4 linked regions of the Homo sapiens genome follow. The protein of the gene in region 1 interacts with the protein of each later gene in a biochemical or structural test. Each region holds a gene or a part of one and is shown in the gene's direction. Other genes may lie near its edges.

The links.
Region 2: the proteins of PPP1R14A (region 1) and CSNK1G3 form a complex in vitro, tested with the Homo sapiens proteins (one study listed by BioGRID).
Region 3: the proteins of PPP1R14A (region 1) and CSNK1E form a complex in vitro, tested with the Homo sapiens proteins (one study listed by BioGRID).
Region 4: the proteins of PPP1R14A (region 1) and PRKCE form a complex in vitro, tested with the Homo sapiens proteins (one study listed by BioGRID).

The regions. Positions count from the first base shown.
Region 1 is NC_000019.10:38,250,716-38,253,392, reverse strand, and holds the end of PPP1R14A (protein phosphatase 1 regulatory subunit 14A), read left to right. Parts: intron 1-418; coding exon 419-499; intron 500-1,054; coding exon 1,055-1,087; intron 1,088-1,946; coding exon 1,947-2,075; 3' UTR 2,076-2,156; downstream 2,157-2,677. UniProt on the Homo sapiens protein: Inhibitor of PPP1CA. Has over 1000-fold higher inhibitory activity when phosphorylated, creating a molecular switch for regulating the phosphorylation status of PPP1CA substrates and smooth muscle contraction.
Region 2 is NC_000005.10:123,585,152-123,592,190, forward strand, and holds part of CSNK1G3 (casein kinase I isoform gamma-3), read left to right. Parts: intron 1-2,916; coding exon 2,917-3,002; intron 3,003-3,275; coding exon 3,276-3,360; intron 3,361-5,258; coding exon 5,259-5,407; intron 5,408-6,167; coding exon 6,168-6,263; intron 6,264-7,039. UniProt on the Homo sapiens protein: Serine/threonine-protein kinase. Casein kinases are operationally defined by their preferential utilization of acidic proteins such as caseins as substrates. It can phosphorylate a large number of proteins. Participates in Wnt signaling.
Region 3 is NC_000022.11:38,307,395-38,314,433, reverse strand, and holds part of CSNK1E (casein kinase I), read left to right. Parts: intron 1-264; 5' UTR 265-276; coding exon 277-352; intron 353-7,039. Other genes in the region: TPTEP2-CSNK1E (casein kinase I), read left to right, coding at 277-352.
Region 4 is NC_000002.12:46,179,668-46,186,706, forward strand, and holds part of PRKCE (protein kinase C epsilon type), read left to right. Parts: intron 1-5,067; coding exon 5,068-5,214; 3' UTR 5,215-7,039.

The DNA.
Region 1 (2,677 bases):
CTGCTGGCTGCCAGCCTCTCCTCCCCTGCACCTAGTGCTAAGACTTTTCCTTGAAAGGGCAGAAGCCAGCTCCTCTCCCGAATCCCAGAATCTGACATTCCAGGACTCCACTAGGCCTGTTTTCCTCTGTGGGAACTAGAGCCAAGGCGAGAGACCCGTGCCAGCCCCGAGGCTCCCGGGGCCCATGGGCCCAGGCATCGGGCTGGTACAGGGCCCCGGGGCTCTCTCAGCCCATCTGTCACCCCTCCCCCCCAACACCCAGATGTCCCGTCTTGGCAGTGCTGTCCCGGACTGCCACATTAATGCTCCAGAACCCGCCAGCTGGGCCCTGGGGCCGGTGGGGCTCCTGCAGAGCCCTGGACAAAGGCGAGGGAGGGAGGGAAGGGGATCCTAAGCACCCCTCCCTCCCTGGCCCTAGGAGGCAGACATGCCCGATGAGATCAACATTGATGAATTGTTGGAGTTAGAGAGTGAAGAGGAGAGAAGCCGGAAAATCCAGGTAGGTGGGGGGACGTGTCCCCCAGCCTCCCACTTTGCACCTCCCTAAAAATAATAGCAATAGTTCACGTGTTTACTGAGTGCTCACTAGATGCCGGGCACTGGTGTGATGGCTTTACATGTATTCACTCACTTAACCCTCACAAAACCCTCCGAAGCAGGCGCTAGTGTGAGCTCCATTTTCCCCATGAGGAAAATGAGGCCCAGAGAGGTTGAATCCCTTGCCCAGTGTCACACAGCTCAGAAGGAGCAGAGCTGGGCATCGAACCCAGGCAGTTTGGCAGCCATGTCTTTGCTTATGGCTTATACCTTTTTAGAGGAGGGAAGTGCTGTGTGACCCTCTCGCCCTCTCTGGATCTAGTAACTCACCCCTGCCCTGAGTCGATCCACATGCCCCTTGGGCTCTGTTCCTCTCTTGAAGCTTGGTGGGCAGTCCACCCTGGAGTCTGACTTCCATTTGTCTTGCTGCTGGGGCCTTTTGGGAAAGGGAAGGGGCTGGAGGGGAGTAGGTGTTAGTCATTTACTGTTTTGTTTTGTTCTTGGTTGGGGGTTTTAGGGACTCCTGAAGTCATGTGGGAAACCTGTCGAGGTGAGTTTTCTCTCCCTCATTCTCTCCCTGTTCTGGCCCCAAGTACTCTGATGGGGGAGGGGGAAGAAGCTGGCAGAAGGGTCTCTGGGGAACACCACCCGGCCCCACCACCCCCGGCCCCAACCTGCCCTCCGCAGCTCTTTCTGGTCTCCAGGGGTGTCTTTTGTCCTCCTACTTGTCTCTCTCCCTCTCTCCCCCATCTGCTGAGGGGGCTCCATTCTGTCCTCCCCCATCTGCCCTGTTTTTGCCTCTCCTGTGCCTGTCCTTTGGCCACCAGCCTTCGGGCTCAGTCTCCCTCTGTCCTCCCCTGTCACTGCCTCCGCCACCCCGGGCTCCCTTCCCCACCTCTGGGGGCCCTCCATCCTCCCAGGCCCTGAAGCTGAGCGGCCCAACCCCTCCCACTTCCTTCCCTGCTTTAAAAGGGAAAACTATTCATGTTTCTCCAACTAGCTCTAGGGACAAACGTCATTGCATTTCTGTTCGCCCTGGATCTATCTCTGGGGACCTGTCTCCACATGTCTCTGTTTCTTTCTCTGTCCTTATGTCTCTCTCTGTCTCTATCTCTACATGTCTCTCTGTTTCTGTGTCTGTTTCTCCCCCTCCCCCACTCCGTATCTGTCTCCTTGGATCTCTATCTCTCTTCCTAGCTCTTTCTCTCCATCCCTCCCATCGCCCTTTCCCCATCTCTGTCTTTCTCCCGGCTCACTTTTCTCTCTATGTCTATAGCCTCCGCCCCTAACTCCCCCCACCCCACAATCAGAGAACAGGAGGAGGCGCCCAGGTCAGGGACTGGGCTGGACAGGGGCAGAGGGTGCCCCCGCACTGTTCCCATGTTCTCAGCTCCCCCACCCTGTCTCAGGACTTCATCCAGGAGCTGCTGGCAAAGCTTCAAGGCCTCCACAGGCAGCCCGGCCTCCGCCAGCCAAGCCCCTCCCACGACGGCAGCCTCAGCCCCCTCCAGGACCGGGCCCGGACTGCTCACCCCTGACCCTCTTGCACTCTCCCTGCCCCCCGGACGCCGCCCAGCTTGCTTGTGTATAAGTTGTATTTAATGGTTCTGTAACAATAACACTGTGTGGCTGTTTTTCCTCCCCCCGGGTTACCATGGGCTTCCCCGAGCTCCCCCCACAACCTCCCTCTCTCCTCCTGTGGCCTCTGCTCATGTCCCTGTCCCAGCACTGCAGCTGGGCCTGCCAGATGGAGAATCACTCCTCCCGGGCCAGAAAGCATGAGAACGGGCCCTGCTGAGCCCACGCCCTTGGGATTTATATCCTAGACCTTGCCTTCCCTTGAACTCCCCACCCCACCCCCATCCCCAGTCCCAGCAAGCAGGGCCCCTATATGCAGGCTCCTGCAGGAATCTGGGTCAAGGGGCATGCTCATGACCAAAGGTGACCGATATTGACTCAGTACAGGTGATCACACAGCAAACAAATCATTCAGCCACTCCATGAAATCTGCGCTGTGCTTATAATGGCCCTTGGTACTGAGGCTGCAAAGATGAGAGGAAGATGGTCTCTGGCATCAAGGTGCTCACACACTATGGGGGGAGAAGGGCCTGAGTGTGAGAATCAGAACAAAGTGTGCTGA
Region 2 (7,039 bases), on another chromosome or scaffold:
TAGACTTATACATAGATGGCCGATTGATTTTTGAGAATGGTGCAAAAGCAACTCGAGGGGAAAGGATAGTTTTGCCAAGAAACTATATGAGAGTAGCTAGATATTAGTATTGAAAAAAATATATCTAAATCCTTACTCCACACCAAAAGCAAAAAAAAAAATTACTTCAAAATGAGTAATAGGTTTAAATGTAGGAACCATAACTATAAAATTTCTAGAAGAAAAAACAGGATAAAATCTTTGTGATCTTGTGGGTAGAGATTTCCTAGATTGGACATCAAAAAGTATAGAAAATAAGAGGAAAAAACCCCTGATAAATTGGACTTCATCAAAATGTAAAATTTCTTTTAAACATACTCTTAAGAAAACAAAAAAATAGCAAGCTGTTTTCTTGAAGGGAAAAGGTATTGGCAAAACATATCTGAAAATAACTTGTGTCCAGAATATACAAGGAACTATTACAACTTTTTAGTAAGACAATCCAATTTTTTAAACAGGCAAACACATGAAATAAAGTTCAGTGTTAGTCACCAGTGAAATACAAATTAAGTCAGTTAATCCATACTTTGAAGTTTGCTTTTCTGAAAGGATTTATTACTGCTTATACTTCATAGCCACTAGCATGGCTAAAATTTAAAAGACCATACAGAGGTTGGACAGGTGCAACTGAAACTCCCATACATTGCTGGTAGAAATGTGAAATGACATAACCCCTTTGGAAAATCATATAGAAGTTTTTTATAAAGTTAAACCTATACTTACAACATCATGTAGCAATCCCCCTTCTAGATATTAACCCAACATAAATGAAAATGTATGTCAACATAGACTAGTACAAGAAGAATGTTCATAACAGCTTTATTCACAATAGCCCCAAACTGGAACCTATTCAAATGTCTGTCAACAGATGAATAAACACATTGTAATATACTACTCAGCATTAAAAAGTAATGAGCTATGGTTGCACGTAACAACATGGATAAATCCTGAAAACATAGTAAGTGAAAGAATTTGGACACGAATCTATACTGTATGATTCCATTCATGTGCACCTGTCTAATCTGTAGTGATGAAGGCAGATAAGTGGTTGCCTGAGGCTGATGGTATTGTGGGGGTTGGGGGAGAGTAATAGGCAAGAGACATTTTGGAGCATTAGAAATGCCTCTTGATTGTGGTGGTAGTTATGCAGGTGTGTTTGTTGTTAAAACTTACCAAACTATACCCTCAGGACTACGAGAATCTAATGAAGTAAAATTTTCGTTATAAAAGTTATAACTAGTTTTTTTCATATTCTCATCCCCACTTTCATTAGTGGATGTAGATGGACTTTAAGGCCACTACTTATTTTGGAAAATTTGCTATTTTTAATAGCATATACTTACATTTTATAATAAAAAGTACAAGAAATAAAAAAACCTCTCCGTTATATCACATTTTTAGCATGCGAAATGGGAAGTTGAAATCTCTTCTCTAGTCTTCCAATCTTGTAGCCTTAATGACTGTCAATTTTGATGTATACTTCTGCAACTTGCAGTCTGGTGGAAGCATATATATTGATTAAATAAAAACACAAACATAGTATCTTTAAATCATAACAAGTGTTATTGAAAACAAGTGTATTAGTCTGTTTTCATGCTGCTGCTGCTGATAAAGTTATACCTGAGACTGGGCAATTTACAAAAGAAAGAGGTTTAATGGACTTACAGTTCCACATGGCTGGGGAGGCCTCACAGTCACGGCAGAAGGCAAGGAGGAGCAAGTCACATCTCATGTGGATGGTGGCAGGCAAAGAGAGCTTGTGCAGGGAAACTCCTTATAAAACCATCAGGTCTCATAAGACTTATTCACTATCAGGAGAAAAGCATGGGAAAGACCTGCCCCCATGATTCAATTACCTCCCACTGAGTCCCTCTCACAACGCATGAGAATTCAAGATGAGATTTGGGTGTGAACACAACCAAACCATATCAACAAGTATAGAATGTTTACACAGTAAAAATCAAAACCTTTTCTGACCCTTCATCCTAGTTCAGAGCCATACTTTGAAAAGTTTGCTTTTCTGAAAGCATTAAGTACTGCCTAGATAGTATGATTGTTCATGTGGATAAAACATCTTGCACATAAACAGACATCCTCTTATTAAAGTATTTTCTCATTGGTAGTTAGCATTTTGGTATTATTTTGAAACATCAAGAAATCTTAAGTATTTAACTTCAGTGACAGAAAAATTGAAATATCATTCAGTCAGCAAGTATTTATAAGCATCTCCCTGAGCCTTAGTCTGTAATCTTTATTCACTTATGTGCTAAATGACATTTTGTTACAACAACAACTTGAAAATGACAGTTTGTTCAAGTAGTATTTTTTGTGATAGTGAAGGGGTTATTAATGTTGGTATGTGTCAAACACAAGTTTTTCTTAAAATATATTACACACAATACTCCATAATCGTGTTTAATTTAATGGAGAGTATTTATCATGGGAGTTTTGTGCTCATATAACTTTAGGAAATGCAGGGTTGAAAAAGTTAAACATTTTAAATTCTAGATTTCTCAGAAGTTTTAATACGTTACCTTCTGAATCTTTAAGACAGAGCTGTAGTATACAGTGACTCTGACCATGGAACTCTTTTCCCCGTGGCCTGTACTTCCATGAATAGACATCTAAGCAGATAAATAAATCTCTAACAGCATCTAAAAATTATAATGGAATATTTTAAAGATGCTCAATAATCTTAATGTAAAAACATTATTTATATAGATATAATTTTATCACTTATAGTTACTAGATCTGTATTTTGTATTTATATGTTGAACTTTTGGAAATTAATTTATACATAATGAAAGAACAAACTCTCCATTCTTCCATTCTTAACTGTTAGAGAAAAGTGAAATTTATATTTCTTTTGTATTTCAGAACAAAGTAGAAGAGACGATTTAGAAGCTTTAGGTCATATGTTCATGTATTTTCTGAGAGGCAGTCTTCCTTGGCAAGGCTTAAAGGTAATTGTTTTTGTGTTTCTTTATTGAATTTCATAAAATATTAAGATATTAAGGTCCTGTCTTCCAACTAAACAGTTTTCATATTTTAAAATTTTATTTTGTAAGTAGGCATCAGGGCTCCCTGTGTTGCCCAGGCTGGTCTCAAACTCCTGGGCTCAAGCATTCCTTCTGCCTTGGCCTTCCAAAGCTCTGTGATTACAGGCTACCGTGTGCAGTCCCAGCTAAATAATTTTTAAATTACCACATTCTCAAGATTTTTTTTTTCTGTTTTAGGCTGACACATTAAAGGAGAGGTATCAGAAAATTGGAGATACAAAACGGGCTACACCAATAGAAGTGTTATGTGAAAATTTTCCAGGTAATGAATAATGTGAGGTTGATACATTATATACAGAAAACTAGAAATGCTAATTTTTATTGCTTAAGTTTATACATATTTTTTTCTATGCTTAAAAAAAAAAGAGCTAAAAATATGATTTAAAGGTTGTCAGCATTTGATGCCGAACCCACAGGGACACTTTGTGTATTTGCTTTGCAAATGGTATTAATAGAAGAAAATCCTGTCTGTTAATAGTGTTGATCATTACCAGCTGAAGTAATATTTTCTTTAGTGATATACTTTTAATGAGTTAAAATTTTTGCTAAGAAATGCCAGTTACAAAGTTTTGGTATTCAGTGTTAGTCATTTGGGTCTCAATGTCAAGTTCAAAGGAGGTATGTGAAGTATGATTTGGTTTAGTTTTCAAATTAAACTTAAATTAAGTAAGGCCAGTAAAACCTTACTGACCTCACTAGTTTGGGGCTAATTTTATATTGGGGAGCTGTATGCATTTATGAAAATAATTTTGCTTTCAAGTAGATTTATGGCAACTCAAATTAAGCCAAAAAAAATTTACTTAAGATTTCTACATCAATTAAGGAATAAGAATAACTTGTTAGTATATTAAGATAATGACTGTGATTTATTTGTGCAGCCACATTAAGTGAAAAGAGAGCTAAATTTGAAGATAAAATACGGAATTCCTATCTCACTTTAGTATTCCGTAGTTCTCCTGTATAATGCTGGCGTTATTAATGTAATAATAATATTATCAACATAACAAAAGTAGCTCTTTCTCAAGCTTGTTTATATTATTCATTGACAGCAAACTTTAATTATATATTTTCCTTTCTTGCTATAATATCTAGAAGTAGATTTTTTAAAATGTCGGTTAATAGTACTAGCAGTTTAGTGTAGGCAGATAGGGTAGTTGTCATTAAGGAAGCCTATATAAAGGTGGGAAAAATGGGGTTGCCAAATCAAATTAGCCAGGTATTTAGCTAGAAAGTGGAATAGTGGGAGAGTCACCACCTAAAGAAGGTCACTGCACACCACTTTTGTTGCCTCATTGTGCTGGGTGTGATCTTTTTCCTGTTGGCTGGGGCTGCCTGTGAATGCTAGGTGTAACTTACCATCTCTTACTGTAGTGATTTTCTGTGCCCTGATGGTGAAATGCCCTGCTTTACTAATTGCTCACCATTTTGCCCATTGTTTTATATTTATATATTTGTTTGTCTGTTTGTTTGTTTTTGCATGTATTAGATACATGTATCTAATACATTTTGGAATTATAATAGCATGCAGAGATTTGTATATCGCCAAATAATTGTTAAATATATGACCAGAAATTAAGAGAAGACTTACACTGTCCTCTTGTGTTATGTTTTTGAGATTTGTTTTAGCTTTCCTTTGTTAGCTTAATTGGTTAGAATACTGCTCAAAGCCAAGGTTAGGAATTTGAATTCTCTATTAGTTAGTTGGTTTATGTCACTGATTCTAAAGGAAATCCAGCAAGCCAATACAGATGCTTTCATATAAATCAGTTCTCACCGGTATTTTAAATAAAATTTTAAATTTATAAACTGAATATGATGCTTTGTGATTAATCATGCATTATTAAACTGCTTATTCAACTTCTCATACTACCAAATATTAAAAATAATCTTATAAAAATGAAAATTTTAGCTTTTCCTAATGAAATGAAGCAAAAATAGTGGTTGTTAAACTAAACCTCCCATTTTTCTTGTGTCTCTATTCCCTTCCTTCTTTTCCTCTTTTTTATTTTGTTGTAATTAAACTCAGAAAAATTTAAATTGCAATGTAATTTTGTTACTTTTCAAGTGTTTTTATATAATACAATGTGCTTTTAGATACTTAATTTTATTACTGAGTATTAAAGAAAAGTATAGTCCAAATAATTTTTATATTATTTCTAGAAGAAATGGCAACATATCTTCGTTATGTAAGAAGGCTAGATTTTTTTGAAAAACCAGACTATGACTACTTAAGAAAGCTTTTTACTGACTTGTTTGATCGAAAAGGATATATGTTTGATTATGAATATGACTGGATTGGTAAACAGTTGGTGAGTATTCTATATAATAATATATTACTTACAGTATCTGTTGCCTTTTTAATAGTACAATATCTTCAATTGAAAAGAGTTGAGAACAAATAGTTGTTTTAAAGGATTCATTTTATTGTTTTTTAAGGGACATTTCTGCAGGTAGTGCCGTACTAGTGTTCTTTGAGTTTTTCAGAAGCCCTACATCTGGATTCTTTGCCTTTTAGCATGAAGAGTTACTTTTAACTTTTCATCCTGATTTAGTTCTTAATGTCAAATATACTCTTTTTTGTGTAATATTCTCATGATTAATTTAATACTTCAATCCCTTGATGAAAATTAAAATTTGTATGAGTCTCTTCAAGTCAAAATATTGGAAATAAGTAATTTTATTAGTTTTTTTATTCTTTTAATTTTCTTAAAAGTTTATTCTATGTATACATTTGCTTTGGAAATGAGAGGCATAAACATATACATTTTTATCATGTTGATATGAAAATGTAGCCTAAAAGTAATGGCAGCATTAAGTGTTCTGTAGATGTAAAAATAAGTACTTTATAAAGAATTTGAATATTTTAAAAACACTTTAAAAAGTAGGTATATTCTTTTTGCTTTACCTTCTTAGCTTTAACAACATATTTTGATAATGATGCCTTTACTTAAAGCCTTAGTTTATTTAACAGTCTTTTGTTTTTTTCCTTAATTCTTTTAAGCAGCTAAATGATTTTAAATAAGAATTTTAAAATGGAATGTATTGATACCAATTGTTATTGTATTGTAGCCTACTCCAGTGGGTGCAGTTCAGCAAGATCCTGCTCTGTCATCAAACAGAGAAGCACATCAACACAGAGATAAGATGCAACAATCCAAAAACCAGGTTTGCTGCCCTTTAGATATGAAATACCTTCCTTTCATGATTGAAACATACACTTTTTTCTTCAATAGATAAAACAGACTGAAGGATTGAAAATACATATTTTTAATAGATAATCTATTTTCTCTTAATTTCACTGTTTATTAGTTTAATAATAGCATTAAAATGTTTAATCATAAATCCTTAATTAATGGTACAAATTAGTGTAAACTTTTAGGAATATGTGATATTCTGTTAGAATGGAAGTATTTGGATACCCTATTAGAATGAATTGTAATAACACTTGGACTTTCTAACTGTAGTTTAGTTCAATAAATTATTTATTGAATTTCTGCTATTGTAAAGCTACTGTTCTACACATTATAGAAATTCAGAAGTAAAGAAGACTGTATAACCTTTAAGAATGATTTTGTCACCAGTGTCTAAAAGCAGTGTTGTAGCTAAGAGTTCACTCAATTCTTTAGAATCAGGCATACATGGATATGGCTTGACCCTGGGCAAATAAGTTAATCTGTCAAAGCCTCAGTTTCCTCATCTATAAAATGGAAATAATGCATGTTAATTTAGAGCATACAGTAAGCTTTGAATCAAAACTCTTGTGTCTGCTGTTACTGTTATTATTATTACAATAAATACAGAAATAGCTATATTTAAAAAGAGAATAAGCTATATTACATGAAACACTAATAAAGTAGCATGGAGATCATATGTGGGGCTCTATGAAGATTTTATGGAAAAGGTAGCTTTTGACATGAACCTAAAGAATGAATGGAGTTTTT
Region 3 (7,039 bases), on another chromosome or scaffold:
TTGAGGGGCCCCTGAATGAGCATCCCCCAAAGACATGCTTGCTTGGCTGCTTCCTCTCTGGCCACACTGAAACCTGTCCTCAGCCTGCCTTAGCTGTTCCCCAGGTGTGTGGAGTGCAGGCTGTGGGCCACCTGACACCTGCAGAATGTGGTCTTCGAGAATGCAGGTTTTCGAGTTCCTGGTGGCTCTGCCTGGCCTTGGTGGACTGGACCCCTTTCCCGGCTCCCCACGTCGCTGACCCTCATGTTCCTGCTTCCTCTGCAGCAAGAGTGAGCCATGGAGCTACGTGTGGGGAACAAGTACCGCCTGGGACGGAAGATCGGGAGCGGGTCCTTCGGAGATATCTACCTGGGTAAGTGTTCCTAGCTCCAGCTGGAGCCCCTGGGGCCAGCCCATGGGACCAAGAGGAGGAAAGACCCCAGGATTTGGGGATCTGAAGTCAGAATGTGGCTCCAGGGGCATGATTTGCCCCAGGGCCATCCCAGATGGGGAAGGAAGCAGCAGGTTGCCGGGAGGCAGGCCAGGGGGCTCCTCTCGCAGGCCAGGCTGGGCACTGGAGGGTATTTTTAGCTCCAGTTTCTGCAGGAGTCATGCGGTTCTTTTGTGCCTCAGTGTCCCGGGTCAGCTGGGTCACCAGCTGGGTGTGGGAAAACCCAGGCGGGGTTCACATCCTCTCCCCTGCTTCCTGGGAGAAGGATATTGGTAGATAGAAGGGACTTGGGTTGCTGCTGGACCCCTAGCCAGGCCCCCCTCTCTATGTCCTGGCCTCCTGGAACCCAGCCCAGGCAGGCTTTGGGATGACGCAGGCTCCCCTGTAACCTCGGGGGTGGGGTGGGGGGATGCGGTCTCCTCATTAGGGAGTTCTCTCTCTCTCTTTTTCTCTCCGGATGTGCTTCCTGTTGAAAGTATGAGTATGCTGTGATGTTGCATTTTAAACAAATCACTGACCTCTCAGTCCTCCCCTTGGCCTGGGAGAAATGAGGCTTGCGCCTTTCAGTGCCACTTCTGAGGGGCACGGTCATGAGTCTTGGCCCTTCCTTTGTGCTTATTGGTCCAAAGGGAAGGTATTTAGTGTTGGTGCTTGTGGATTAGCGGGTGGAGGCTTGAAGTTGCTGGAGTGAGGTGGCCAGCCCTTCTACGAGTTATCCTCATTCCTGTCCCTGCACCCTCAGAAGCAGGCTAGACACACCTCTGTGCCTTGGTTACCCTCCTTGGAAAATGAAAATCAGCTCTGTCCAGTGCAGAGAACACCAAGTCTGTGTGTCGTGTCCATCAGCTCAGAACTTCGGGGTTTCTGTTACCCCATGGTTAGGGTTCCTTGGAGTATGAAATGTGCTAAGGAAGCCTCAATGGAGACGGGGACGGAGACTGGGAGTTCCCTGACCACTTCCTTGCAGGGTACTTTCTGCAGCCCCTAGAGATAGTACCAGATTATTTGTTTGGCACATCAGGAAACTGAGGCACAGATGGTCAAGTTGGCCTCCCAAGACCGCTCTAGAAAACTGGCAGAAGCAGCCTGTATGCCCACAGCCCTCCACATGAGTGAGAGCGTGGAAGACAGAACATGCCGAGGGAGACGTTAGACGTCTAGCTCTGCGTTCTAGACGTGGCTTTGTGTGGCTGTGGGAAGGTCATGCAGCTCCTCTGTGCCTCAGTGTCCCCATCTGTAGTTTGTGATAATGCTGCCTGACTGACCAAGAACTGTTCCAAGGCAGAGATGAAATGACAGATGGGAAAGTATTTTGTAAACTCTAAAGTGCCAGCCAGATGTGCAGTTCATTGCTGAGTGCTTAGTAGATGAGCCTCCCCTATGGACACCCTGGAGCTCAGAGGGAGGGAGAGTGTGTGGTGCAGCTGGTTTAAAGGTTTTTCTCTGCGACCCCAAGCTACTCCCGGGGAGGCAGGCATTTGGTAATATCTGCTAGTGCCCAGCGCAGTGGGTGTTCACTGAAGGCTAGTCAAGCAAACCAATGAGAAAATGGGGATTGTGACATGCACAGACATGCACAGTAGCCTCACAGCAGAATAGAAAAATGCCGGGATGGCCAGGTGCGGTGGCTCACACCTGTAACGCCAGCACTTTGGGAAGCCAAGACAGACAGATTGCTGGAGTCCAGGAGTTCGAAACCAACTTGGGCAACATGGTGAGACCCCATCTCTACAAGAAAAATATAAAAAGTAGCTGGGCATGGCGGCACGCGCCTGTAATCTCAGCTACTCAGGAGGCTGAGGTGGGAGAATCACCTGAGCCATGGAGGTTGAGGCTACAGTGAGCTGAGATCACACTCCAGCGTGGGTGTCAGAGTGAGACCATGTCTCAAAAAAAAGGAGGCCAGGAGATATGGCTCACACCTGTAATCCCAGCACTTTGGGAGGCCGAGGCGGGCAGATCACTTGAGGTCAGGAGTTCGAGACCAGCCTGGCCAACATGGTGAAACGCTGTCTCTACTAAAGATACAAAAATTAGCTGGGTGTGGTGGCACATGCCTGTATCCCAGGTACTCTGGAGGCTGAGGCGGAAGAATGGCTTGAATCTGGGAGGTGGAGGTTGCAGTGAGCTGAGATCGTGTCATTGCACTCCAGCCTGGGCGACAAAGCAAGACTCCATCAAAAAAAAAAAAAAAAGAAGGAAAGAAAAGGGCTGAGATGTGGGGGCCAGTCCAGGTTCAGATCCCCAGCGTGTTCCTCATTTGCTGTGTGACCTGGAGTAAGTCACCATATCATTCTGAGCCTCAGTCTTCTCATCTGAAATGAGTGTACCCAGCTCCTTACTGTTTGTGAAATTGGAGTGGGTGTAAAGGACCCTCGTATTATTGAAGCTGTTGGGCTGAGCACTGAAGTCTGGAGCCACTGGCTGGAGGTCAAAGGGCATGGAGACAGCTCTTGGCACAGACTTGTTCCTAGACAGCGCCCATCCCAGGTCCCGTCGCTCTTTTTGCAGACAGGAGACAGGCCCATGGCTGGAGCGGGGACAGCCCAAGATCACTCAGAAAATCCAGAATCTTGTGTGGTGGGACCTCCCTGGGGACAGGACTTCCTGTTTATCTGCATAGTCATCTCATTCATTTTAAAAACTAAGTACAGATTTACTCCTCTTTGTACTGGCTCTAGAGTAAATTCGACCTAGGTTTGGGTGCTGGTTCTTCCTTTTGTGAGCTGTATGCGCTTGAGCAGGTGATGACCTTGTCCATCCTTGGCTTCCCCATCTGCAAAATGGGGTCGTGCAAAGTAATGAGGTCGTGGCGTGTAAAATACCCACGTGTGCTGGGCCCAGCAGTAGTGCTGTGCGCTGCGCCCCCACCATTGGTCTTAGTTTCTAGTTCGGAGTTGATTTCGAAGGGTCTGGGTCCTCTGGGTCTGAGTCTGGGGAGGCGAGTCAGACTCCTGACTCTCCCATCTTCACTGGTGCAAGGGCCTCAGGGGACCCTGCCCTGACTCACCATCCTGCCAGCACCCTCCTGGGCCCCTGTCTTGTTGGTTTGGGGACAGTGGTGATTGTAGGGCGTCCCCGGCCAGCCTTGCTGGCTCCATTTATTCAACACTCTGGCCACATTCTTATCCCCAGTGCTCTGCCAGGGCCTGACTCCAGATGGCCTCTGCCGGTGGGGCTGGATGCGTCCTCCAAGCCCTGCTTTCCAGGATCACCCGAGGGCCAGCACACTATGGATGTGGCTTCTGCCCCTTCTCCCTCTGCATCATAAGGGGTCAGCCAAGAGAGTGGGGCCTGCTTTGTTAAGGCACTGCTGTTGCCCATGCAGGGTCCAGAGGTGGCCAAATCTGGGCCCATTTGCTAGACTTGCATCCTGGGGAACTCTCTAGACCTCTTAGAGTCTCTGGTCCTCAGCTCTGAAAGGGGTGGCGAACAGTGTTGTTCGCTGACAGGTGGTTCCAGGGGTGAGAGTTAGTGTGGGAAATACTCCAGGCCTCTGATGGGTGGGAACTGAGGTTGCCGCCGCTGCTGCTGCCGGGACGGTGGGCTTCATCCCCTGTCCTCCAGTCCACCCATGTCCCCGATTGTGTCCATGTGTCTGTGTAGGTGTCAAGTAGGCCCCCGTGTGAGGCTGGCCACGCCCGTGGCCACCTGGAACTTGCCAAGTTCCCAGCCCCTCTAGGGCCAGCCAAGTCCAAGCCCTTTTCTGTGTCCAAGTTTGTTTTGGGAACTGGCATTCCCTCCACTGTGTCTGACTCATGGGGCATCTTCTGTTCCTGAAATCGGGCAGTTCTAGCTTCTAGGCCTTCGCATGTGGGGCACCCCTGCATCTATGCTCAGCCGGCTCCCAGACACAGCCTCTGCCAGGAAGCCTCACCTGGAGTTTGAGTGGAGAAAAAACACAGGGACTTTGGGGACTAAGTTTCAAATTCTGGCTGTGCCCCATCCAGTTCTGTCAGACCTTAGGCCAGTTACCTAACGTTTCTGAACCTCAGCTTAGCGGTTGTAAGAATTAAGGGAGCTCAGAGAAAAGCCTGGCGGCTTCCTGATAGAATTTAGAGGCCACCAAGGAACTCATTGGTGGCAGGACCTGCTGCAGGGGGAGGCAGCTCTGGCAGGTTTCCAGCACTTGCGGGGGTCAGAGGCTTTGCCTAGCAGCTTGGGTCCCTGTCCCTGGGAAGTTTGTAGCATATGATCATTTGACCTTTGGTGTCTGTTTTTCCACATGTCAAACAGAAATGCAAACAGTAGGCCAGGCACAGTGGCTCACGCCTGTAATCCCAGCACTTGGGAGACCAAGGCGGGCAGATCATTTGAGGTCAGGAGTTTGAGACCAGCCCGGCCAACATGGTGAAACCCCATCTCTACTAATAATACAAAAATTAGCCAGGCGTGGTGGTGTCTGCTTGTAATCCCAGTTACTCGGGAGGCTGAGGCATGAGAATCGCTTGAACCCGGGAGGCAGAAGTTGCAGTGAGCCGAGATCATGCCACTGCACTCCAGCCCAGGCGACAAAGTGAAGCTGTCTCAAAAAAAAAAGAAAAAAGAAATACAAACAGTAGTACTCGAAGAGTGGAGTAAGGGCTCGAGGGGAAGAGGGCCCTGTCTACCACTACCTCCCCAGCACCTCTCCTCCCTGCACACATCTGCCGAATCACCAAGTGCTGCAGGCCCTGCCTCCAAAGTGTCAATCAGTTTCTGCACCCTGCCCAGGCAGGGCCACCGTCAGCTCTTGCCTGGTCTCTGTAGTGGCCTTCCCAGGCCTTCCACTACCCCTCTAGCCTCCTCCAGCCCTTTCGTATCCACCAGGTAGCCTCAACAGGGTGATTTTTGTCCCCCAGGAGACATATGTCAAGATCTGGAGACCTTTTGGTTGTTACAATTCAGGGGGAAAGGGGTGCCCTGGCATCTAGTGGGTAGAAGTCATGGGTGCTGTTAGACTGTGCAGTGCCCAGGGCAGCCCCACAACCAGGAATTCTCCAGCTCCAGTGTCAGTAGTGCCACGGTTGAGAGATCCTGTGATCACACACCTGAACATGGCCCTTGGTGCCTCAGGCTGAAGGCCAGGATCTTAGCCGGCCATTCAAGACCCTTCAGATCTCTTCCCTGCCCACCTCTTCCACTGTCTTTTTCTGCCACCCCATGGTTCCCGCTGCACCTGCTGCTGTTGGGCCTCTGCTTGTGCCGTGACCTCTCTTGTCTGTCCAGTACAGTCCTGTTTGGGAGCCAGGAGCCCTTGCAGCCTGCCCTCCCGGAGGCTCTCCTTTCCTCATAGCATGGCTTATTCCCTCTTCCCCTCCTCCCACTGGGTGGACACCGGCTCATCTCTAGCCTAGGGGCTGCACTTCCCACCAAGCCGAACATCATGGAGCATTGACTGTGTGCCAGGCACTCTTGTAAGCATGTTTGTCTGTCAGAACATCCCAATGAGCCAGATAGTGTCATCGGTTTACACATGAGGTACCTGGGGCTCAGAGGGGTGAAGTGCCTTGTCCGACGACCCCTGGCCAGGGGATGTCCGAGTCAGGATTTGGGCTCTAGTAGGTTGGCTCTGAAACTCACACTTCAACCGCTGCACTCTCCTGCCTCTCTGCTCATGGGGAAATGGAGCATGGCCAGGGGACTCTAAGGATCCTCACTGTCCCCTGGAAACCTGTGTGGCTCATCCCAGTGACGAGCATTGATGTGTCAAAAGCTCTTTACAGTTTGCAAAGTACTTTCATTCCTGTTGCTGGCTAGATTGAGTTATTCATTCTGTTTTTCTTTTTCTTTTATTAAAAATCCAAATACTCAAAAATCAAAACACAAAAATGTGTTAAGTGAAAGAAGCCAGTCACAAAAAATCACGTTGTATGATTCTGTTTGATTCTATTTCTGTGAAATGTCCAGAAAAGACAAATCCATAGAGACAGAATGTAGATTAGTTGGGGGGCAGGGGATGGAGCGAGGAGATAGGACCTTACCCCACTAAAGGCTACAGGTGTTTTCAGGGTGATGAAAATACAGCCCTCCTGGGCCAGGCACAGTGGCTCATGCCTGTAATTCCTGCACATTGGGAGGCTGAGGCAGGTGAATCACTTGAGCCCAGGAGTTGGAGACCAGCCTAGAGATGGCAAACCCTGTCTACAAAAAATACAAAAATTAGCCAGGTGTGGTGGCTTGCGCCTGTAGTCCAGCTACTCGAGAGGCTGAAGTGGGAGGCTCACTTGCGCCCCAGAGGTTGAGGCTGCAGTGAGCTGTGTTAGTGCCACTACAGTCCAGCCTGGGTGGCAGATTGAGACCCTGTCTCAAAAAGAAAAAGAAAATACAGCCCTCCACCTTCGGTACCTGTGGGGAATAGGTTCCAGGATCCCCCTCAGATACCAGAATCCTCTGATTCTCAAGTTCCTGATATAAAAAGCTGTAGTATTTGTATATAAGCTACGCGCATCCTCTGTATACTTTTTTTTGTTTTGAGACGGAGTCTCGCTGTGTCGCCAGGCTGGAGTGCAGTTGTGTGATCTCGGCTCACTGCAACCTCCGCCTCCCAGGTTCAAGAGATTCTCCTACCTCAGCCTCCTGAGAGCTGGGATTACAGGCGCTCCCACGGGAGCACCTTGGCTAATTTTT
Region 4 (7,039 bases), on another chromosome or scaffold:
GAACCTGTTTGTTTCTATCTTGTGTCAGCAATTAGAAAACTCTAGTGCCCCAAGTCCTGGGAGAAGAAATTTCATTAATTGGGCCTAAGCCTACCTGTTTTGCAGACCCCATGGGCCTAGTGATGGTCTGGGATGCCTGGCTCTAGGCCCTTCATGAATCAGACTACAGCCATCCCCCCCAACTCCCTGCCTCCACTTCCCAAAATCAAAACACCCCCTGACAGCACAGCAGCCCCTGACCCTGAACCCAGATCACGTTACTGGCTCTAGATAAAGTAGCAGCAAGAGAGGTGCATTTATTAATTTTTTCTAGCAGATATCTATGGAGTATGCAGTATGTGCCAGGCATTGTGCTAGGCTGGGGATAGAATGGTGAGTTCAACCCAGTCTCTGCCTGCAAGGAGCTCATAGATTAGTTGAAAAGAAGAGGCCTCCTCAGTGTGGTGAGTACTAAGTTAGGAGAGATGGTGAGGGCACCCACAAGAAGCTTTGCTCAAGCAGCCCTGGAGGGATGAGGAGGGTTCCTGAAGAAAGGGCATGTACATGGAGGTGGGGAAATTGCATGGATGTGGGGCAGAAGGCAGGGATAGGGGAGGGCATTCCAGGTAGAGGGCTAGCTATGCAAGGCTGGAGGCAAGAGAAAGCAGGAGGAAGCCCCATGGTTGGGCAGTGCCAGGGAGATGAACCTGGGGGATGAGGCAAGGACAAGCTCCTGAAGGGCCTCAGAAGCAGGTGAGCGAAAGAACTCAGGACTTTACCCCAAAAGCCGTGATGTGCAATGAAGCATCTCAATTGCTGGAGGAAGCACTAGGATGTTCAGGCAGGCCCAGGCTCAGTCCTAGTTCAGGATTTGGAGGCACAGAAAGAAAGGTAAGACTCAGCCCCTAACTTCAGGAAACTCACTGATGGGCAGATACCATGCACTGTGTTGGGAAACAACCAAGCTGTGCATGATGCATGCCCATGGCACACGAATGCTAAGATTTGAAGGCATGATGGGAGCTATCATTTATTGAGTGCACTCTGTATGCCAGGTTCTGCAGAAGGAACCTAATATCACATCTCACTCAGTCCTCAAGGAAACCTATAGTGTGCCTGTTACCACCCCCGTGTGACAGATGGAAAGACCACGGCTTAAAGAGGTTAACTTCACAGCGTCAATAACCAGGAAAGGATGGCACCAGAATGAGCTCAGCCGGTGATCTTCCTCCTACTCTATTCAGCCTTCCCTAAGTGTGGGCCAAAGGTTGTAGAAAAGGCTTCACGGATTAGGAAGGGACTGGCGAGTTAGAATGTTGTTCCCTGTGTCCCACTGTCATCTCTCAGGCTCTGCAGTGGGGGCCAGGAGCCTGACATTTAGGCATTAGGGGAGGCAGGGATGACTGAGGATCAGGATAAACAAGTGTCTCTGAGAGCCTGCCCCTCAGAATCTTTAAGTCGAGTCCAGTGCCTGCTCTGTGCGGGAGGTAGCAGCTTTTCAAAGAATAAAATCAGCGAGTAAAGAATATAATCTGCAGTTCTTTGCAAATTTGACGATGCTGTGCTGCCTACATACCATTAATAGGGGATGGGTTTTCCCAGAGATGTTTGCTTTGGAAAACTCCCAAGCCTCTACTGTTAACAGTTAGAGATTGCACATAGTGGGGATGGTTATTTGAATTAGAAATGGGTAACTCACATGCACCTGAAATGTCTCCAAGTAAAGTAGGGTAGGGGCCAAGTTGTATAAGGAGATGGGTGAGCCAAGTCTGTAACGATCATGAAGAATGGCATACTCTCTCAAATGCCACAGATGATTCTGGAACCTCAAGAATCTCAGAGCTGAGCTAAATGGCTCTCCAAGATAGCCCACCATGGAGCTAAGGTCCTCTGGAATGACACCACTAGCAGTATTGACTGAGCCTGGTTCCCTGATTCACAACAGCAAGTCGTGAAATTCAGACATCCTGTAGGATCTAGCTTTACCACTATGCTCAGTTGACCTCAAGAAATGAAACCAGCTTCCATGATTAACAGACACTAATGACCAACAGGTGAAACACAATCAGGTAAATGGGGAGAGCCAGTGCCAGAGGGCTTACAGATTTTCTGAAGTTCTTCATACACAGGTTCCCCTCATTAGCAGCCATCTGGGAGGGAGCTGGGGATGATTCTGAAACCTGGAGAATCCCGGTCACTATATCATACATTAGTTGAAAAGAGGGAGCCTCCTCAGTGTGGTGAGTGCCAAGTTAGGAGAGATGGTGAAGGCATCTCCTGCCTACACGCCTTGTACAGCCAGCCCTCTGCCTGGATTATACCGGTCTACCACATACCTGGGCAAGGCTCGTCCTTAGTGACGTTACAAATGGAATATTCTTCTTGCCCTATTCCTTGACTCTCTTTTTCTCCTTACTGCCACCCCTACTACTCCATTATCCCCTTCGGCTCCAGCTCCCCCGGCGTGGATGCTCCTGGCTTGCCTTCTGGGATGATACCCAGGGCTTCCCTAATTGTTGCCACAGCCTACCCAGCCCGCTCCTCCCTCTGGACTGACTCACTTCGCCAGGCACAGAGGGCCCATAGCCTGCAATCCTCCCCAGTCAGTGAATCCCTCCCCCTTCCACAGAGATCTTCAGAAGAGGTGTCGCCACACCCTTTGCCCAGGCGCCACCCTCCCGCGTCAGTGTGCGTCACCGTGGGGATGGTCTTTGTTGTTTCCCTCTCAAGCAGGGCCCTCCTTTTCCTCTTGTTCTGTACACACTGGAGAGGGAGAACAGATGGTCCTCCTGCCGGGGGCCAGCCCTCCTGGCAGAGGTGACCAAACCACCCGGCTTTCCCATCTCAGGGGCATCATGGACACCCCTCAGCTATAGGTTCTGTTTCTGGGGATCCCTTGGGTTTTCTGTGTGTCCCCCCCTTCCCCCTTCCAAGGTCTCTGAGACCTGCTGACCTATGCAGCTCAAGCCCAGAGAGAAGACACCAGGCAGGACTGGTGGTGCTAAAAGATGGTAGAAATCAGTTTGTCCCTCCTCCGTGCTGTTTGTGATTTTGATTTCAACCTGGGACGAGTTGAAAACAGTCCCCCGCGCAGCTCACCCGGCCCACGTTACCCACTATCTTCCCGGACTCACAGCTGTCTCCACCCATGCTTGCCTACTGGCAGGCCTTTCCGGCTTTATTTTGCCTAGTGGTGTTACCAAAATGTCTCCTGGTTGAACTTGACTCTTGTTATATCTTCCAATTTCTCCCGTGTCCAGATTTCCAGACCTTACCCACTGTGGAAGGCATCACACTGAAGCCCAGACATGAGTTCTGGGTCTGCTCTTACCCAGTCCAGTGACCCTGGGAAAGTCAACAAACCTCTCTGAGCCAGTTTCCTCATCTGCAGGATCAGGATGTTACCAGCCTGTTCTGAGGATCAAATGAGCGAATAAATGCAAAGATTCTTTGTAAACTGTAAACCAACATTCTCCAAACTGCATTCTGCAGACCCTGCTCTCAGGAGAGGTGTTCATAAACTATTTAGGAAAACAAAAAAGTTTTAGGTCAAGTTTGAGGAAGGCTAGCCTAAACAAAGCAAACTAGATTTCCTCACTCTAGAATTTCTCAGAGACTAACTTGCCAATGTGCATAGCAAATCTCCAAGAGCAGGGTAGAAAACATGGCTTTATGTCAAAACTGCTTTTTTCATGGACTACTTATTAACTTCTTTAGGTTAGTGGTTTCCACAGAGCATAGCATATATTAATATTATTTCTCCTACAAATAATAATGTGAATCTTTCCACAAGATTTATTCCATCATCCAAGTCACTAATCCTGGGTAATACCAGTTAATCAGTGTCTGAAAAAAGTATTGCTGGAGTCCCTGCCTTTAATCTTCTGGGCATTGTGCTCTGTGCTGTGGGGGAGAGGGGACCTGCTATTGAAGGCCTCTGCCATTGGACTCCAGCCCTAACTCCCGCCATCCCCATGCCGCACTCTGCCCCTGCAGCTTAGTGAACCCGCTGCCCTGTGTATGCATCTTTTGTCTTCCTGTTCCCTGCCTTTGTTCCATCCTTCTCCCTGCCAAGGTGCCTCCCTCCCATTTCTACCAGTACAGTTGTCACCCATTCCTCAAGTCTTAGCCCAAATCCCAACTTCTCCATGGAAATTTTTCTAACTAAAGCGATGTGTTCTACACAGGACTACTGACCCCTTGAACTCAACTCTAAGCCCCTAAAGGCAGAGAGCATTACTTATACTTCCTGATTTTCTCCAAAAACCAGCATTCATTTGTGGGTTGATTGATTGCTCCCTTCCACCCCACCCCCCAAGAACCATAAGGCACACAGTTGTACCTTGGGAACTTCAACCCAGAGGTATGGGTCCTTCAGAGCTGGGGAGTCAGTGGTGAGTTTACTTATTTCATTCAGTAGACACTTATTGCTGGGGAACTGCTGGGAACTCAAAGTTGAACAAGACAAGGTCTCTGCCTTTAAGAAGCTCTTGGTCTAGACAAAAGCATAAAAACGTCATTGCAAGTCAATGTGCTGAGTTTAATAATTGAAAAAATACTGGAGCACAAAATTGGGTTCGTGGTGAGAGTAAGTGGAAATCGAGGCAGGCTTGTGGAGAGGATGTCACCTGGAGCAGATGTGGCCGGGTTATGGGGAAGAAGGACCTCTGAGAGGGGATTCAGATCTGTTCCCTGGGTCACAGGGAGGAATGTTGTAATGGAGCCAGTAGGTTACAGCAGTTGCTGAAAGAGGGTGTGAGATGGGACCTTTGCATCATACACACACAAACACACACACACACACACACACACACACGTCTGTGGGAATCCCACTTCCCTGCTTTTCCATCATACCCTCTCACCCCTTCTTCCTTCTCACCTTGACTCATTCTTCCTCTCCTCGTCTCTCACCTCCGGGTCCTGGGGCCATCCATCGTTACCTCATCGGGACAGCCCCGTGTCTGCTGTCTGTTGGTAGCTAGAGGCCTGCTTTGGTGACAGGCTGGTCAGTGCGGTGCCCACTCCCCATGGGGGGCCCTCAGGAGGGAGAGCAGCCTCAACTCACCACTTTCTCTTTTCTTCCCACAGAAAACCAAAAGAGACGTCAATAATTTTGACCAAGACTTTACCCGGGAAGAGCCGGTACTCACCCTTGTGGACGAAGCAATTGTAAAGCAGATCAACCAGGAGGAATTCAAAGGTTTCTCCTACTTTGGTGAAGACCTGATGCCCTGAGAGCCCACTGCAGTTGGACTTTGCCGATGCTGCAAGAAGGGGTGCAGAGAAGACTCCTGTGTTGGAGACACTCAGCAGGTCTTGAACTACTTCTCCTCCTCGGAGCCCCAGTCCCATGTCCACTGTCTATTTATTGCATTCCCTTGCCCCAGGCCACCTCCTCCCCCTCCCACCTGGTGACCAGAAGGCGCTCTCGGTTCTTGTCTCACCAGTAATGCAGACTCATTGGGTCAGCAATTAGCTGTATACACTGCCGTGTTTGGACCATTGGCAAGCCTGGTTCCACTCCTCAGGGGCTCCTGGCAGTGAAGCAACTTCAGTTCTTTTACTGCAAAGAACAGAAAAAAGAAAGAAAGCAAACAAGAAGACTCCGGCTCTGCTATCGGACACAGATCCTGATCCCTCTTGCTTCTTTTCCCTCCTGCACCGCAGCTTGCCATCCCTGCCCTTCTGTCCTGGAGAAGAGACTGGTGCTTCTCCGCACACACGAGGGAGGGCGCCCTTGAGGCATGCCCTCTGAGGGAGGGAGACCAGAGATGCAGGGATTGGCCAGCTGGGTTGGTTTGCTCTGGAATGGCTAACTCTTGCCTGCTTTGGTTTTAGCTTTTCAGCATGCCAAAGTCATGTAAGTTTGTGTCTTGTGGAAGAAATCCTCTTTGTGGAAAAAGAAACAGGGTTTTGAACTCTGTTAACATTTGAAAAATATATTTTCAAATTCACTTTCTAATTGGCCAAAAGAGATGAGTTCCAGTCTGAATACAGGTAGATATTAAAGGGCTAATAAAAAATGAGAAACCGGTCGTCCAAGGTGGATGCTGTCAATGCCCGAGTGACACATGAGAGCTGTATGAATTGAGAGAAAAGGCAACAAGTAGCATTCTTCATCATTCAAGTTCTACCTGGACACAAAGGCGAGGACCCTGGGGTTCCAACAAAGCTCAGCTCCCAGATTCTCTTTCCAGTTTCATCCTAAGTTCCTAGCATAAACACTATTTATTTTCTGCAGCAGTGTGTTATTTTTGCGCACTTATACAAAATGGTAGTACTACTGTGTTGTGGTTTTTAAACATTAAACATGTAAAGTTATATACGAAATATCTGCTTTTGGAATAAGCAGAATGAGGCTAAACATGGGTTATACAAAGGGTATCTGGAAACTGAAGAGCAACTTGTTAGAAAACTGACAATGTCGCAAGATGTACTCAGTTTTGTTTCTGTGTGACATGCAATGGCAACTCATGTGGACACTATTGAAGGGATGTGACATTACCTCCTGTAGATATGCTAACAGTGTTATTCTTTCATTTCCAAGGGTTCTCTGTGGCTTTGTGTATATGTTTCCCAGAGGTCATTTGATTACCTAATTTACTGAACTGATTTAGCAGGGAATGGAATCCATTCCAACTATTGCACGTGGATTTCCCAGCTGCCCCTAAATATATATACTTGTGAGTGGCAAAGTGGCACTAATGAAGCTTTTGCCTTTTGTACATTTGAGATTTTTGTATATAGTGTTTGCTGCAAGGCCTGTGGAATTAATTCGTTGCATATAGAGGTATCAACTGCTGCATGTTCAGGCATATTATAAAACTTTAGTCTATGAAAGAATAATTATAATAATGTCCAGGTGCAATACTCTGTAAGTCTATTGGTTCAAGTTACCGAGAGATAGGTGTGTTCCTTTATGGGGGATGGGGGGGTGTGTTGGGGATTCTTTGTATTGTTTATTTCATTTTGGTTTATTTTAAAAGATGTAAACATATATTAAGCTATATTAAATCTCACATACAGTTCTTCTGTGCTCTATTATACCCTGATAGAGATG